4 linked regions of the Homo sapiens genome follow. The protein of the gene in region 4 purifies or fractionates together with the protein of the main gene of each other region. This does not show direct contact. Each region holds a gene or a part of one and is shown on either strand. Other genes may lie near its edges. The genes, in order: CNIH4, KLHL36, CLPTM1 and SLC6A17.

Region 1 (4,225 bases), about 110 Mb from region 4:
CTGCAGTCCCAGCTACTTGGGACACTAAGGCGGGAGGATTGCTTGAGCCTAGAAATTCAAGGCTGCAATGAAATATGATTGTGCCACTGTACTTCAGCCTGGATGAGAGAAAAAGACCCTATCTTTAATAAAAAATAGAAAAATACTATAATCAGTATTCGCAGAGAACTAGGAGTCAAACATGAACCAAGAGAATAAAAACCTCTTAAAAATCATCATTTTAGCATAAATGCTACATTTGTTAGAAAATTCAAAAGAAGGCTGGGTGCAGTGGCTCATGCCTGTAATCCCAGCACTTTGGGAGGCCGAGGAGAGCAGATCACCTGATGTCAGGAGTCGGAGACCAGCCTGGCCAACGTGGCGAGACTTCATCTCTATTAAAAATACAAAAATTAGCCAGCATGGTGGCACACCCCTGTAATCCCAGCTACTCAGGAGGCTGAGGCACAAGAATTGTTTAAACCCAGGAGTTGGAGGTGTCAGTGAGCCAAGATAGCACCACTGCACTCCAGCCTAGACAACAAGTGCAAAACTCCATCTCAAAAAGAAAGAAAAAAGAAAAAAAGAAAATTCAGAAGAAAAAGCAAGGGAAATAATAAAAACAGCAGAAAAAAAATCAAAGAGATAAAACTAAGAAAAAGGAAAAATTGGCAGATCAATCCAGCAGATCAATTGTCTAGTTAGTGGATGTTGTAGGAAGAGAAGGAGGGAAAAAAGATGGGGAAGAAACATCAAAGAAAGAATACAAGAAAATTTCCCATATTGAAAGAGCCTATCAGATGTCCAAAACAAACAAGAAAGGCCTTTTAAAAAGTACACAGAGGGCCAGGCACAGTGGCTCATGCCTGTAATCCCAGCACTTTGGGCAGATTACGAGGTCAGGAGATCAAGACCATCCTGGCTAACATGGTGAAACCCTGTCTCTATTAAAAATACAAAAACAAAATTAGCCAGGCATGGTGGCAGGCGCCTGTAGTCCCAGCTACTCGGGAGGCTGAAGCGGGAGAATGGCGTGAACCGGGGAGGTAGAGCTTGCAGTGAGCTGAGATCACGCCACTGCAATCTAGTCTGGGCCACAGAGCAAGACTCCGTCTCAAAAAAAAAAAAAAAAAAAAGTACACAGCGATACAGCACTGTAAAATTTCAAAACACCAAGGATAAAGATTCTAAAACTTTCCCATAGAGGACAGGAAAAGAGAGAAAGAGAGAGAGAGAGAGAGAATGAGAATGAGAATCATATAGAATAGATGAGAAATTCTTTGGGAGGCTGAGGCGGGCAGATCATGAGGTCAGGAGATTGAGACCATCCTGGCTAACACGGTGAAACCCCGTCTCCACTAAAAAATACAAAAAAATTAGCCGGGCGTGGTGGTGGGCGCCTGTAGTCCCAGTTACTTGGGAGGCTGAGGCAGGAGAATAGCATGAACCCGGGAGGCAGAGCTTGCAGTGAGCCAAGATCGCACCACTGCACTCCAGCTTAGGCAACAGAGTGAGACTCCGTCTCAAAAAAAAAAAAATGGCATGGTACTTCCCAACTTGAACCACTGGAAGTCAGAAGACCACCAAGGGGTGTCTTTAAAATTCTGAAAGAAAAATCTTTTCCAGCCTAGAACCCTGTACTCTGACAACTATGAATCAAGTGTAAAGATAAGACATTTTCAAACATGGAAGGCCTCAAAATTTAATTGGCAGTTACCTTATCTCAAGAAGCTACATGAGGCTGGGCGCAGTGGCTCACAACTGTAATCCTAACACTTTGGGAGGCCAAAGAGGGCAGATCACTTGAGCCTAGGAATTTCAGACCAGCCTGGGCAACATAGTGAAACCCTGTCTCTACAAAAAAATTTTAAAAATCAGCCAGGTATGGTGGCACACACCTGTAGTCCCACCTACATGGGAGGCTGAGGTGGAAGGATCGCTTGAGCCTAGGAGGTCAAGGCTGCAGTGAGCCATGATCGCATCACTGCACTCCAGCCTGGGCAACAGAGTGAGACTCTGCCTCAAACAATCAAACAAAATTTATGAAAATTTTTAAAATATGGAGCTTAGGCCAGGCATGGTGGCTGACACCTGTAATCCCAGCACTTTGCCAAGACAGCAGGATTGCTTAAGGCCAGGAGTTCAAAGCCAGTCTAGATCACATAGCAAGACCCAGTCTACAAAAAAATTTAAAAATTAGCCAGGTGGCTGGGCACGGTGGCTCACACCTATAATCCTAACACTTTGGGAGGCTGAGGCAGGCGAATCACTTGAGGTCAGGAGTTTGAAACCAGCCTGGCCAACATGGTGAAACCCCATCTCTATGAAAAATACAAAAAAAATTAGCCAGGTGTGGTGGCAGTGCCTGTAATCCCAGCTACTTGGGAGGCTGAGGCAGGAGAAACGCTTGAACCTGGGAGGCAGAGGCTGCAGTGAGTCCAGATCACACCACTGCACTCCGGCCTGGGTGACAGAGTGAGACTCCATCTCAAAAAAAAAAAAAAAAAAATTAGCCAGGCATGGTGGCATGCGCCTGTAGTCCCAGCTACTCAGAAGGCCGAGGCAGATCACTTGAGCCTAGGAATTCAAGAATAGCCTGATCACCACTGCAAGAAACCTTCTCTCTCAATAAATAAATAAATAAATAAAGAGTCATACATTAAAAAAAAATTATTTTCTCGGTAAACTACACAAGAAAGGTCTTCTTTCATTCAACCAAAGACAGACTTGAGCTTTTTTCCGTGAGTGGGAGGAGGGAGTTCCAACGCAGAAGACAAAAACAATTACCCTCATGATGAACATTTCCCTACTCTGAGTAAAGATGCTATCCGCTGTAAACAAGAGACAAGCAACATATAAAGAAACAAAATTTCAAGTCAGATCTTCTAGCATAATTTCATGATCTAAAATATTGTAAAACACAGCAGTTCCATCAAATTTCCAATGAATAAGAGACAACATGTACTCTAAAATCAAAAATACATCTGTTATCTATAATAATCTTAAGTATGGAAAATGACCTGGCTTCAATGCCAGAGAATGAGCAAAGAAATGTCTTACCTTGTTTAATTTTGAGCAACATGATCTAGCATTAATGTAATCACATTCTAAATCAGACAATGTAATTATCTGATGATCAAGATAAGGAATTATTATATTTCTTTTATAATAACTAAGTATTTAAGTTTCAGAAAGCAATCCCAGTTACAAGGCAGAATTAGATTTGACTTGAAAAAAATGAGTTGTTTCCTAAAGTTTGCTCATTAGACAACTCAATTTTCCCATTCATGTTCCTTCAACAAATTATTTTACAAAATAATCCTATTTTGCTCAAATCTAATCTGACCCAACCAGAACATTTAGTTTGAGTTCTTCAAATGTAAAACAATGGCTATTAAAAAAAAAAAAATGGGAAATATCCCAGCACTTTGGGAAGCTGAGGCAGGAGGATCGCCTGAAGCAGGAGTTCAAGATCAGCATAGGCAACATAGCAAGCCTCCATCTCTTTCACCCAGGCTGTAGTGCAGTGGCGCAATTCCAACGCACTGCTACCCCTGCCTCCTGGGTTCAAGCAATTCTTGTGCCTCAGCCTTCCAAGTAGCTGGAACTATAGGTGCGCGCCACCACCACACCCAGCTAATTTTTTGTATTTTTAGTAGAGACGGGGTTTCACTATGTTAGCCAGGCTGGTCTCGAACTCCTGGCTTCAAGTGATTCACTCACCTCACCCCCATCTCTACAAATTTTTTCTTTTTTTTTCATTAGCCGGGCATGAGCACCTGTAATGCTAGCTATTAGTAGCAGTACTGCTAAGGTGAGGCAGCAAAATGCCTAGAGCCCAGGATTCACGTTACACTGAGCTATAATCACACCAGTGCGCTCCAGTCTGAGCAGCAGATTTGGTAGGCACTTGTAGTCTCAGTTACTTGAGAGGCTGAGGCAGGAGAATCGCTTGAACCCAGGAGATGGAGGCAGCAGTAAGCCAAGATTGCGCCACTGCACTCCAGCCTGGGTGACAGTGAGACTCTGTCTCAAAAATAAACATGAAAATAAAATAAAGTCAAACTCATCACTTTCTCCACAGATTGATCTTCCTCCAATTTGTTTTATTTCTGTTACTGACACAAGTATCACTTGCCCAGGATCAAAATATGGAAAGCTATCTCTGCCTTCTGTTTCATATATCATAATCACTCATTTGTAGGTCCTGGCAATCATTTCTTCTAAATACTACTCACATATTCCC
Region 2 (4,056 bases), on a different chromosome or scaffold from region 4:
TTAAATTTTTTCTCATTTTTAGAAACAGGGTCTTGCTCTGTTTCCCAGGCTGGCATGCAACAGTAGATCAGAGATCACTGCGGCCTGAAACTCCTAGGCTCAGCCGGGCGTGGTGGCTCATGCCTGGAATCCCAGTACTTTGGGAGGCCGAGGTGGGCAGGTCACCTGAGGTCAGGAGTTCGAGACCAGCCTGACCAACATGGTGAAACCCCGTCTCTAGTAAAAATACAAAATTAGCTGGTTGTGGTGGCGGGCGCCTGTCATCCTAGCTACTCAGGAGGCTGACGCAGGAGAATCACTTGCACTCCGGAGGCGGAGGTTGCAGTGAGCCACTGCACTCCAGCCTGGGCAACACGAACAAAACGCCATCTCAAAAACAAAACAAAACAAAACAAAACAAAACAAAACAAAACAAAACAAAACAAAACAAAACTAGTCTCAAGCAATCCCTCCACTTCAGCTTCCTTGGCAGCTGGGACTACAGGTGTGTGCCACCATATCCAGCTATTTTTTACTTTTATTTTTTGTAGAAATGGGGTCTCACTACATTGCCCAGGCTGGTCTTCAGCTCCTGAGTTCAAACGATCCTCCTGCCTCAGCCTCCCAATGTGCTGGGATTACAGGTATAAGCCACCGTGCTAGGCCTCAGCTTCTAATTATGCAGGAATGGTCAGTGCTTCTACAGACATTGACTGGAGGCCCCTCTTGGGTGTGAGCTGAAGGAAGGAAATTAAAAAGTACTACAGTGGCGGTGATCAAGTCATAGTACAGGCTTAGCGGCCTGAGAGACGCATATGAGGGCATGAGGCGGCTATCTGCCACCCGGGGACCCTGGCTGTCTCCACGCTGGTGAGGGTGCTGGCCCTACCATGCTTAGACGGAGATACACACAACCCCAGACTGCAGTGTCAAAAGGGAAAGAGCCCAGGGGGCAGGACTGGGGAAAGCCCCAGTGAACGGCTGCCGAGGGGAGACACCAGCTCCAGTGAGCTGGGGCAGGGGGCAAGAGCAGTGTTGTTTCCAAAACTGGGTTTCTGCTCTAAGTGGGCTGGAGTGATGCTGTACCCGGGTACAATCAGCTGCAATCTGCTTCTGGTGTTTTAGCACAGCTGCATAGACAACTTTCCAAAAACACAGGCACACGAGTTCCCTTTTTTTTTTTTTTTTTTTGGATACAGAGCCTCCCTCTGTTGCCCAGGCTGGAGTGCAGTGGCTCGATCTCGGCTCACTGCAACCTCCGCCTCCCAGGTTCAGGCGATTCTCCTGCCTCAGCCTCCTGAGTAGCTGGGACTACCGGCATGTACCACCATGCCCAGCTAATTTTGTCTTTTTAGTAGAGACAGGGTTTTGCCATTTTGGCCAGGCTGGTCTTAAACTCCTGACCTCAGGTGCCACCACTCCCGGCATATATACATATATCAGTAGAGACGGGGTTTCACCATGTTGGCCTCGAACTCCTGACTTCAAGTGATCCATCCACCTCAGCCTCCCAAAGTTCTAGGATTCCAGGCGTGAGCCACTGCGCCTGGCCTATTTCCCAATTATAAAGGGACATTGGTAACAGAGTTTCCGCATTTCAGGTAACTTAGAAGCTCCAATCCACAGCATTCTCTGATGATATGAGTCTTGTTCATTTCTTTATTTCCTATTTCAGTGCCTTAATCAGATGCAAGGCCAAGTAGAGGGAGAAACTCAGGTTGTCGGGGGCTTACACCTGGGAGGAGGCGGCAGGTACCAGGTATTAGACGTGGAAAAAGAATTTAGCATCAAAAAGGAACAACACTTTTTTTTTTTGAGACAGGGTCTCGCTCTGTCACTTAGGTTGGAGTACAGTGGTGCGATCATAGCTCACTGCAACCTCTACCTCCTGGGCTCAAGTGAGCCTCCCACCTCGGCCTCCTGAGGAGCTGGGACTACAGGTGTATGCCACCAGGCTCGGCTAATTTTTGTATCTTTTGTAGAGATGAGGTTTAGCCGTGTTGTCCAAGCTGGTCTCAAACTCCGAGCTTACGAGATCCTCCCGCCTCGGCCTCCCAGGGTGCTGGGATTACAGGCGTGAGCCACTGTGCCTGGCTGAGCAACACATCTTAGGGCAGACAGGTGAACAGACACTGTGGCCACACAGTGGGAAGACACCAACATGCTGAGAAAGCAAAACCTACCACTACCAACTACATGCAGCAACACGGGTGAGGCTCAGAGGCACAATGTTGCACAAAAGAAACCACACACAAGAGTACCCGACCTCGGATCCCGTTTAGACAAAGTTCAAAAGCAGATCAAACCACAGCGGTGGGGTTGGGACAGCGACTATCTTGAGTGTAACAACTGGGAGGGTTTGGTAGTATTCTGTTTTTTACCCATCTGGGTGCTGGCAACATAGGTGTGTTTAATGTCTAGAAATTAATGGGTACACTTTTTAAAAATAAAAAGTTAGAAACAGGCCAGTCATGGTGGCTCGCGCCTGTAATCCCAGCACTTTGGGAGGCCAAGGCTGGCGGGTCACGAGGTCAAGAGATCAAGACCATCCTGGCCAACATGGTGAAACCCCGTCTCTACTAAAAATACAAAAATTAGCTGGGCATGGTGGCATGCACCTGTATTCCCAGCTCCTCAGGAGGCTGAGGTGGGAGGCTCACTTGAGCCCAGGAGGTAGAGGCTGCAGTGAGCTATGATCGCACCACTGTACTCCAACCTAAGTGACAGAGCAAGACCCTGTCTCGAAAAAAAAAAAAAGTTAGAAACATCATCCAGTGATACAGAAGCCTAGTCCTAAGAGATTCAGTTCAGACAGAAACAAACTCAGGGTCCTGGCATTAATGGACAAAGACTTCCAGTGCTGTCAAACTTAGAAAGCAGCAGTGTCTCCCAAGCTAAGCTCCCAAACAAAGCCCTTGTGAGCGAGCGGCGAGACCTCTCTGGGTTTTCACAATCGATAAAGCTGGGCTTGGCAGGAACCTTCTTGGGGAACTCACGTGAGAACAGGAGGTCATATCTCAAGAGAGCCAACCTCTCTTGAAAATGACAGCCAGTTTTTCTTTTAGAATCTGTAGAATCTCTTTCCCCCTTTTTCTCAACTCTATAGGCTGCTGCCAGCTCCCTTCATCTAAAGAAGTGTTTCTGTATCTTTTTTCATTATTGCCCCACAAGAAGGCTTTTAAGATTTTTTTCCCTAATAGCCTCCCCAGCAAAATCTTAACATCACAGATGCACTGTATGTCTGCTCATGTACTGTATGTATAATTGTGTCTTATGCATAAAAGGAGTAAAATTCCTTCCACCCTCCCGAGAACCAATTTTCTCCCACTTCAGGGCAATATCATACTCATTGAGAATCCATGATCTGAGGTAACCATAAGATTTAATCTCCAAAAGGGATACCTCTAAAGAACAGAGGGCATTACGAATATTTATAACGGGGAAACAGGTTACCAGGAACCTCATACCAATGGCTCCCCCACTCTTTACCAACAGCAGCTGTGGGGACAGGAGTTTGTGGAAAGTATAGCAGCCGGGTCTGGCTCTTGGATTTTAATGTGGCTGGTGGGAACAGGCTACATATTTCTAATTAGAACTCCCCCAGTAGCCTGGCTCTGGGGAACTTGCCCTCACTTGCTCTTAGGTCGCAGGGAATCATGACCAGGGAAGACGACTCCAGGCCCTTGGGGTCCGGGTACACGGTGTGTTGCCCTCACCCTAAGGTAGAAGGCTGGGTTCTCAATGGACCTGTCCTTGGAGTTTTTGAGCCCCCAAGCAGGCATGGGAATCCCAGTTTTCTTCCTGTCCCATCCACCTCCTTGGGTTAACGAATGAGTCAAGTTGTCACAAAAAGAAAGCTCCGGAATGTCACATGGAAAAATGAAGACATCTGGCCATAGCGTCTCTACCATCCCTCATACTTCCCACTGTCTGATTTTATGACAATTTCTGCTCCTTGCCCGTTTCCACCTTTACTTGTCATTAAGGAGACTGACAACACCAATGACAAAAAAATCAGTCTGTGATTAGAAATGAGTGAATCAGAAAAAGGATCACACTTCTTAGGCAATTTGCATA
Region 3 (4,225 bases), on a different chromosome or scaffold from region 4:
CACCTGGGTCACCTTCAGAGCGACCTCTGAAACATCGGGCATTTTAGCCCAGACCCCTGACGTATCCCCCTGCAGGGAAACATCTGTGAGACCAACCCTGTAGGTCACACCCCCTCAAGCCACTTCTGCCTGGTTCTCCAAAGATCTCACCACATGGACGTCAGCCGGGTGGGACATACCAACGCAGCACATTCTTCAGACACACTCACTCAGAAAGGGGCTCAAGTAACTCCAGAAGACCTTTCCAAGTCATTTCTAGGGACCCACATAGAGTCAACTTTTCATTTCATCCAGTATAGGTGATAAAAAAAAATTACCATCCTTTAGGATATTTTTGTACTAAAAGAAGTAGGTAAGACCTAACTCATACAAATAGAATTCTGTCTGTTGCTGCGCCACCCAAAACCAGCCAGATGGATCTTAACCAAATCCACAGGGAATGTCTGGAATAGTCCTCAATAAAGTGAAAGCTAGGTGGAGTACACAGAACTCCCGTTAGAAGAATGGGGGGCTTTCTGAGGAAGCCATTCTCCAGCTCCGCTCAAACAGGTACAGCAAGAGATTTCTACGGCTGCCCATCAGGAGACAGAGGACTCAGGGAAAAAGCTCACAGAGAACCAAGCAAGGCTGGGTGTGGCAGCTCACACCTGTAATCCCAGCACTTTGGGAGGCCGAGGCAGACGATCACTTGAGGTCAGGAGTTTGAGACCAGCCTGGCCAACATGGCGAAACCCCGTCTCTACTAAAAATACAAAAACTAGCCGGGCGTAGTGGCGTGTGCCTGTAGTCCCAGCTATTTTGGAGGCTAAGGTGGGAGAATCGCTTGAACTTGGGAGGTGGAAATTGTGGTGAGCTGAGATAGTCCACTGCACTCCAGCCTGGGCGACATAGTGAGACCCTGTCTCAAAAAAAAAAAAAAAAAGAGCCAGGCAAGCAGAAAGATGACAACAATTATTAACTTCTCGAAAACAAGAGGACGGACAATGCTATGGTTTGAATGTTTGTCCTGGCCAAAACTCATGCTGATTCTCCCACCTCAGCCTCCCAAGTAGCTGGGACTACTGATGTACTCTAGTACTCCCCACTCCCAGTGAAACTTAATCCCCAATGTGCCAGTACTGAGAGATGAGGCTTTTAAGAGGTGACTGGGTCATGAGGACCCTCCCCTCAGGAACTGATTAACCCATTCATGGATTAGTGGTTTAATGGATTAATGAGTTATCATGGGAGTAGAAGTGGTAGTCTTATTTTTTATTACTATTGTTTTTTCAGAGACGTGGACTTGCTCTGTCGCCCAGGCTGGAAAGCTGTAGTGCAATCACAGCTCACTGCATCCTTGACCTCCCAGGTTCAAGCGATCCTCCCACCTCAGCCTCCCATGTAGCTGGAACCACAGGTGCTCACCACCATACCTGGCTATTAATTTTTGTAGCAACGAAGTCTCATTATGTTGCCCACACTGTTCTTTGAATTTTATCTATTTTTTTTTTTTTTGAGACGGAGACGGAGTCTTGCTGTGTCACCAGGCTGGAGTGCAATGGCGTGATCTCAGCTCAATGCAACCTCCGCCTCCTGGATTCAAGCGATTCTCCTGCCTCAGCCTCCCAAGTAGCTGGGACTACAGGAGCATGCTACTACACCCAGCTAATTTTTGTATTTTTAGTAGAGACGGGGTTTCACCGTGTTGGCCAGGATGGTCTCTATCTCTTGACCTTGTGATTCACCCGCCTCGGCCTCCCAAAGTCCTGGGATTACAGGCGTGAGCCACTGTGCCCGGCCTCTATCTATCTTTTTGAGACAGGTTCTCGGTCTGTCACCCAGGCTGGAGTGCAGTGGTGTGATTCTGGCTCACTGCAACCTCCACCTCCTGGGCTCAAGCGATCCTCCCACCTCAGCCTCCTGAGCAGCTGGGACTACAGGCACACGCCCAGCTAGTTTTTGTGTCTTTTTTGGTAGAGACAGGGTTTTGTCATGTTTCCCAGGCTGGTCTCAAACTCCTGGGCTCAAGCAATCTGCCCACCTTGTCTCCCAAAGTGCTAGGATTACAGGCATGAACCACTGCACCCAGCCCACAAATTATTTTTGAGTGTCTACTTCTATCAGGCCCCTACTGTGCAAAAGTCAACCCTGGCCCTTCCCCCTTGGTGAAGGACGTCTCCTCCTCTCCAAGAGTCCCTGTCTCCAGCTGCTTTTTCTGGCCAATTTCTCTCTGGTCCCTGAGCCTCCGTGGGTCTCCCTTCCTCCGTGGGTATCCCTGCTTAGTGTCCACAGGGCTCTTTCAGGCTGGGTGGGGCTTGAGCCTGCCCTGCCAATCCCACCCTCTTTGAGCACAGGCTTCCTGCCTGCCCTCCTGGACTTGGGATTTGTCCGCCACATTAGCCTGGGGGCTCCCAGGATGCTGGCCTCCTGGACAGTGGGTCCTGGCTGCAGGGGAGCGACTTACTCCGGGACATGTGGACTGTGGCAAGCCGGCGGTACAGGGCCTTCTGCCGGGGGTCTGGGTGGAAGCCACTCTTGGTGAAGTAAACGTGGATGTAGATGGAGCCGTTCTGCTGGACGCTCTGCAAAAGACGGAAGGTCAGGTGGGCAGGCTGGGCAACTGGGGTGAGGGAAACGTTAAAGCCCTGCCTGGCACCCATCTGCAGCAGTTTCCTCCCCCTCAACTCTCTGGCCATTTACTGAGTACTCAGGGTGGGGCATGTAGCTGGGTGGCAGAGAGGTAAATGCTGGAGTCAGACAGACTCAGACGCCCGCTCTACCTGCCATGGCCGTGTGAGCTCAGCTTCTCTCTGAGCCTCAGGGCCCCACCTAGAGGATGCGAAGTTCCCACAGCACTGACCCGAGGGCACCACTGCAGGGACTACCTGGAGCACTGGCACACAGCTCAGTCAACGAGCTCTCGTTAAGCTCACTCAACAGGAAGAAGCAGCTGACCGACATGGAGCTCCTACTATGGGCCAGACCCTGCCCTGGGCACTTCAGACAACAGCTTCCTAATCTAACGAGTTAACACACATATAACATGTCAACCTTATGCAATGGGTCATGTTACCACCCCATTTTGCAGATGAGGCAAACGGGGCTCATGCCAAGGGGTCACATAGTGTGTGGCAAGTACGCAGATGGAAACCCAGTCTGTGGGCTCCTGGGTGCTACTCCCTGCTACCTCCAGCTGGCCCCTCTCTGCCCAAGTCTTCCTCATTATCTCATCAAGTCTCCTTGCCTCCCAGGGAAGGGGGACTATTCTCACTTGATCCAGATGAGGAAACTGAGGCTTCAAGAAGGGAGGCAAGTTGTCCAGGGGCACTGGGTGGAGACAAAGGCGAGCACTGAACCTCTCTGATCCTTGTGCAGAGCTCGAATTCAGTTGGCCACATTGTGTTCTCCTCACTCTCCCTATCTTTTTTAGAGATGGGGTCTTCCTGTGTTGCCCAGGCTGGAGTGCACTGGCTATTTGCAGTTGCGATCATGGCACACTACAGTCTTAAACTCCTGGGCTCTGGCCATTCTCCCACCTCAGCCTCCTGAGTAGCTGTGCCTACAGGCACATGCCACTGTGCCCAGCTCTCCTGCCTTTTAAGTCCACTTGGACCCCACCCTGAAGCTTCGACTTAGATCCAAGCCCTTGGAAGCAGATCCCCCTGCTGGGCCTGCCAGGCCCTGGTCCTTCCTTGGATCTCGTGGCAAGGCCTGGGGGCTGGGCTTGAGGTCTCTGTGGGAGTCACCTCTCAGTGCAGGTCAGAAAGTCCAGCCAGGTGGGGTGGTTCATGCCTGTAATTCCAGCACTTTGAGAGGCTGAGGTGAGAGGATCGCTTGAGCAGAGGAGTTTGAGACCAGCCTGGGAAACATGTTGAGACCCCATCTCTACAAAAAATTAGCTGGGCATGGTGGTGCATGCCTGTTGTCCCAGCTACTTGGGAGGCTGAGGTGAAAAGATTGCTTGAGCCCAGGAGGTTGAGGCTGCAGTGAGCTGTAATTGCACCACTGCACTTCAGCCTAGGCAACAGAGCAAGACCCCATCTCAAAAAGAAAAGAATGATGGCTGGACGCGGTGTCTCACGCCTGTAATCCCAGCACTTTGGGAGACCAAGGTAGGTGGATCACTTGAGGTCAGGAGTTCAAGGCCAACCTGGCCAACATAGTGAAACCTTGTCTCTACTAAAAAATAAAAAAATTAGCTGGGTGTGATCATGTGTGCCTTAGTCCCAGCTACTCAGGAGGCTGG
Region 4 (4,225 bases):
CATAAATCCAGGCCACAGCGATGTTCTCAAGGATGACGATGAGAGTGAGTGGCAGGGTGGCCGAGTAGTCATCGAACATGGTGACAAAGTAGTTTCCGGAGCGCTGGACGAACAACAGCCCCACGAGGAATGCAAAGACACAGCAGCCCACTACAGAGAGCCGGGAGGCCGGTTTGGGGGCAAAGGTGCAGGGTGGGCAGGGCCCTGGGGGTCTCGGGGGCACCCAGGCCCCTCCCATCACATCCCTCCCCAAAGCATGCCTGCAGCCCTCCTGCCAGCAGGCTCAGTCCTGCACGAGGGATCCAGATGCTCAGGTTCTGAGCCCCGCTCTACTAGTCGGGGAGCACCTGAGGAAGGCGTTGTGTCTAACTTTCATCCCATGCCTCTGCCCCAGCACAGGGCCTGGCCCGTGGCAGGTGCGCTACTTAATTGCTGTATTTAACTTAAATGATTCATCTGATTGTTACCAGTCTTTTTCTCCACCTCAGTTTCCCCACTTGAGAACAGAAAGATACCCCGCTTTAGGGATGCAGATGAGAGGTATCCCTCTATGGGCCCTAGATCAACGCAGCAAACCCCGAAGGGAACTGTGGACACAGCCCGGGACTGGAGTGACAAAGATGGAACAGGGCGCAAGGCCAGTGAGTGCCCCTGCCCAAGACGACTCAGCACCCACTTCCCAAGACGACTCAGCAGGCCCTTGGGGAGAGGGGCAAGTGAACTAACAAAGGGGCCTAGATGCAGGCCTCCCGGCTCATGTTTGCTCCAGATTTCCAAGTAGCTTTCTCTTCCTGGCTTGTGAGTGCTAATCACTGAGTGGCACAGCCAGGCTCCAGCTGTGTCCCAGTGTGGGGTGGAGCCTTCTGGGTGTGGGGTCATGAAGGACCCAGTCAGAAGCCAGAACGGAATTGTTGTCCACAAGGGCAGCCTGCAGAGCCTGGGCATGGGGGCAGGGAGGAGTTACCTGTGAACATCTCCTTGGGCACCTTGAAGGTGTCGATGATGGGCGTGGTGATGCCTGCCATGGTCCCGATCATGCTGCCCAGGCCCAGGTTGATAAGCATCAAGAAGAACATGACGGACCAGAACGGGGAGGCGGGGAAGTGCGTCATGGCCTCAGTGAAGGCGATGAAGGCCAGGCCTGTGCCCTGCACGGACTGAAGGTGGGGTGGAAAGCAGGGCCTGTGAGGTCACCCCTCCCTGGGGAGCCCACTGCTTCCTTCCCTCTGCCCTTCAAACTTTTGGAATAACTATTCCCTCTTTCACAGGGGTTCCCACCTCCACCTAAATCCTGTTGATTTTGGCCAGTGGGTCTCGAACTTTAGCAGGCATTGGAATCCCCTAGACGTAGCTCAAAAACACCAACTTGGGAGTTCACCTGTGGGACCTGGAATCTACGGGTTGTACCAGGAGCTTAGGTGATTCAAGTGAAGATGCTCATGTTTAGAAATACACCCAGCTCAGGACCCTGCTCCTCTAAGATGTCTTTCCTGATTGCTCCAGCCACACTGTGGCCGCTCCCAGCTCAGAACTTCTGAACTGCAGATCTTCATGCAGTGGTCTCAGCCTCGGCTCTCAATGGAAGCACACCGGAGCCTTTAGAAACACCGACACCTGGGTCTCACCCCACGGACAATGACTGGATTGGTCTGGGGTGAAGCTGGGTGTCAGAGTTTTTTTTTAAAACAAACAAAAATACCCCAGGAACTCTAATGGGTAGCCAAGGTAGAGAATCACTGCTTTAATGCTTGGGCCATGCTTGTGGGTCAGGTGACCACACACTGCCCCCTGTCACTTACACGTTGCCCTGTAATGTTCAGTGATTGTAAGGGAACATTTCTTCCCCACTAAGTGAGTGTATAATCTTGTCATTTGAATGCTATCGGAGTTGTATTGTATGAAAACACTGCTATAAACCTAGTTTAATTCAGAGAACCAGGCCATGCCCATGAGAACTGAGCAGGGTTTCAGAGAATGTGAAAAGGGGAGGTCCTTTATGCTGCCAGTTACCTGGGGAAGAAACCAGGGCAGTGGGCCCGAGATTGGGCTCTTTTGCTCTTGATCCGCAGGGAAAGGGTTGGGGTGTAGGATGCAGCTCCCTCAGCATTAGGATGGTACCATCCAATGGAGCTGACTTTTAACATAGAGCCCAGGGAAAGCACCCCCTTCCCCAGTCCCATGAAGGACAGGGTTGACCCAGGCTGATGGGAGCTGGCTCCGCCCCATGTGAGCCTTGGCTCCAGCCTGGTTCCCAAGATGCTGTGGGTATGTCCCTTTCCTGTTACCCCTTCTAACAGAACAGTCATTTTGAAAGTGTCCAGCTATGTAAGTATAAATAGAAGCAAGGTGTCCTAACATGGGCCTGAGCACTGAGGAGGAGTCAGCACCCCCAGCACCACCCTAAAGTCTAAGAGTCATCATGGCAGTGAGATTGGAATGGGGACAGGTTGGGGAGGGGCAGAAGCATCAAGAGGTGATCCTGAGCATGGGCTCTGGACCCAACTAACTGGATTTGGACCCAACTAACTGCCTCTCTGACTTACTAGTTATGAGACCTTGATCAAGCCCCCCATCTCATAGGCTACTCATCTGTAAGGTAGGGAACAATATGAATACTCAACTCATAGAGCTGTCTTGAGCGTCAAAAGAGATAGACAGCAACGGGCAAACACTAACTTCAACACTTCTTTGATGCACACCATGTCAAGGCACTGTTCTGAGTATATTACCTGTGGCAGTGACTGATGCACGAGAAGCCCACTCAGTAAATGGAAACATCGTCCCATACACTTACTGTGACTTCTGAGAGGTGTGTGTCTGCCCTACTTCTTGTCTAGGCTCAAGCCTACCTCTGGGCAGGGACTTTGGCCAATACCTTTCTTCCCTTTCACTCCCTCTGGACACACAGCAGATCCTTGCTTACCAAGTAAACTAATGACTACCTGTCAGCATCCTGAGGCCTGAGCCCAAGCTCCCGCCGGCCACAGCTGCTCTCTGGGTTCCTGCCTGTCCTGGGAAGGGCAGCCTGTCCCCGCACCTTGTCCAGCTCGTCCTCCAGAAGGCAGGGGTCAAGGCCCAGGGCTGAGAACTGGTCCTCCTTCACGGTCATGATGACATTGTACATCTCCATGTAGTCCTTTGTGGTCAGGTGGGAGAAGTTGACGTGGGGTGGGATGAGGTCCCGGCTCAGGACGTTGGTGTTAAGGTACCCTAGGATTTTCTCAGCATTCCTGCAGCACAAAACCGAGAGGACCAGGTAAGAAGGCAGGGGTGGGCAATGGGTGAGATCCTGGAGGCTCTTCCCAGGCACCCAGGTGGGAACCTCATGGGTCACTGACAGAGGCATCTCTGAGCTTGTCCCTGTGGCCCGGAGCTGGGGACAGAGAGTGCTCCTCTGATCTCCATTCCTCAGTCTGAGTGGAGGGGACCTCTCTCCCCATGCACACCTGCGCCCCCACCCCTGCCCACTCCCAGGTAAGGTAGACAGGGAGAAGGAGGGACAGGAGGAGAGATGCCACCTACTCGACCACACACTTCTCATTCATGATGTTGGCCTTGAAGCCCAGCACAGCAAACACCACGAGGGTGGCCAACACTGACGTGAAGAAGTTGATGAAGGACACCAGGGCGGCATCGAAGTGGCAGTTGTTGTCCTGCTTATTGTAGCTGGAGAAGGCAATGACACCACCAAAGCCCAGGCCCAAGGCAAAGAAGACCTGGGTAGCTGCCTCCCGCCACACCTGGGGGTCCAGCATCTTGTCCAGCTATGGCAGAAGACCAAGGCAGGAGGAAGAAAAGAGACACAGAGGGGATGGTTTTATTCATGTGCACACCCCCTTTCTCAGCCTCAACAGAGTTCAGAGGCAGCAGCCCATAGTGGTAAGAAGCTGTGTGAACTTGGGCAATTTCCCTACTCCTCTGAGCCTCAGTTTCCCCAATACGCAGATCACAAGAGTATCAACTTCAGAGGATGACTGTGAGGACTTGGTAAGACAACATAAATGCTGAGTGCTTACATAGTAATTTAACTGCTACCATGGCTTCCCATGCAGCCATCATACTAAGGAACATCGTCAAGGCCATCACATATGGTCATGTAGTACACAGCTCTAGAGAGTGCCATTCACTTGGACTACAGTGTGACAGGTGCCTCCTAGAGTCCTGCAGTGAACAGCTTGCACAGCAGCACAAGAAAACTGAGAATACCAGAATCTCCCTGACGCCT

Evidence for each region.
Region 1: the proteins of SLC6A17 (region 4) and CNIH4 purify together in Homo sapiens (affinity purification with mass spectrometry; one large-scale study listed by BioGRID and IntAct). This does not show direct contact.
Region 2: the proteins of SLC6A17 (region 4) and KLHL36 purify together in Homo sapiens (affinity purification with mass spectrometry; one large-scale study listed by BioGRID and IntAct). This does not show direct contact.
Region 3: the proteins of SLC6A17 (region 4) and CLPTM1 purify together in Homo sapiens (affinity purification with mass spectrometry; one large-scale study listed by BioGRID and IntAct). This does not show direct contact.

What each region holds. Positions count from the first base shown.
Region 1 is NC_000001.11:224,359,378-224,363,602, reverse strand, and holds part of CNIH4 (protein cornichon homolog 4), read right to left. Parts: intron 3,109-4,225; coding exon 3,040-3,108; intron 1-3,039. UniProt on the Homo sapiens protein: Involved in G protein-coupled receptors (GPCRs) trafficking from the endoplasmic reticulum to the cell surface; it promotes the exit of GPCRs from the early secretory pathway, likely through interaction with the COPII machinery.
Region 2 is NC_000016.10:84,650,955-84,655,010, reverse strand, and holds part of KLHL36 (kelch-like protein 36), read right to left. Parts: intron 1-4,056.
Region 3 is NC_000019.10:44,975,679-44,979,903, reverse strand, and holds part of CLPTM1 (putative lipid scramblase CLPTM1), read right to left. Parts: intron 2,562-4,225; coding exon 2,444-2,561; intron 1-2,443. UniProt on the Homo sapiens protein: Involved in GABAergic but not glutamatergic transmission. Binds and traps GABAA receptors in the endoplasmic reticulum (ER).
Region 4 is NC_000001.11:110,191,511-110,195,735, reverse strand, and holds part of SLC6A17 (sodium-dependent neutral amino acid transporter SLC6A17), read right to left. Parts: intron 3,765-4,225; coding exon 3,523-3,764; intron 3,231-3,522; coding exon 3,038-3,230; intron 1,158-3,037; coding exon 965-1,157; intron 151-964; coding exon 1-150. UniProt on the Homo sapiens protein: Synaptic vesicle transporter with apparent selectivity for neutral amino acids.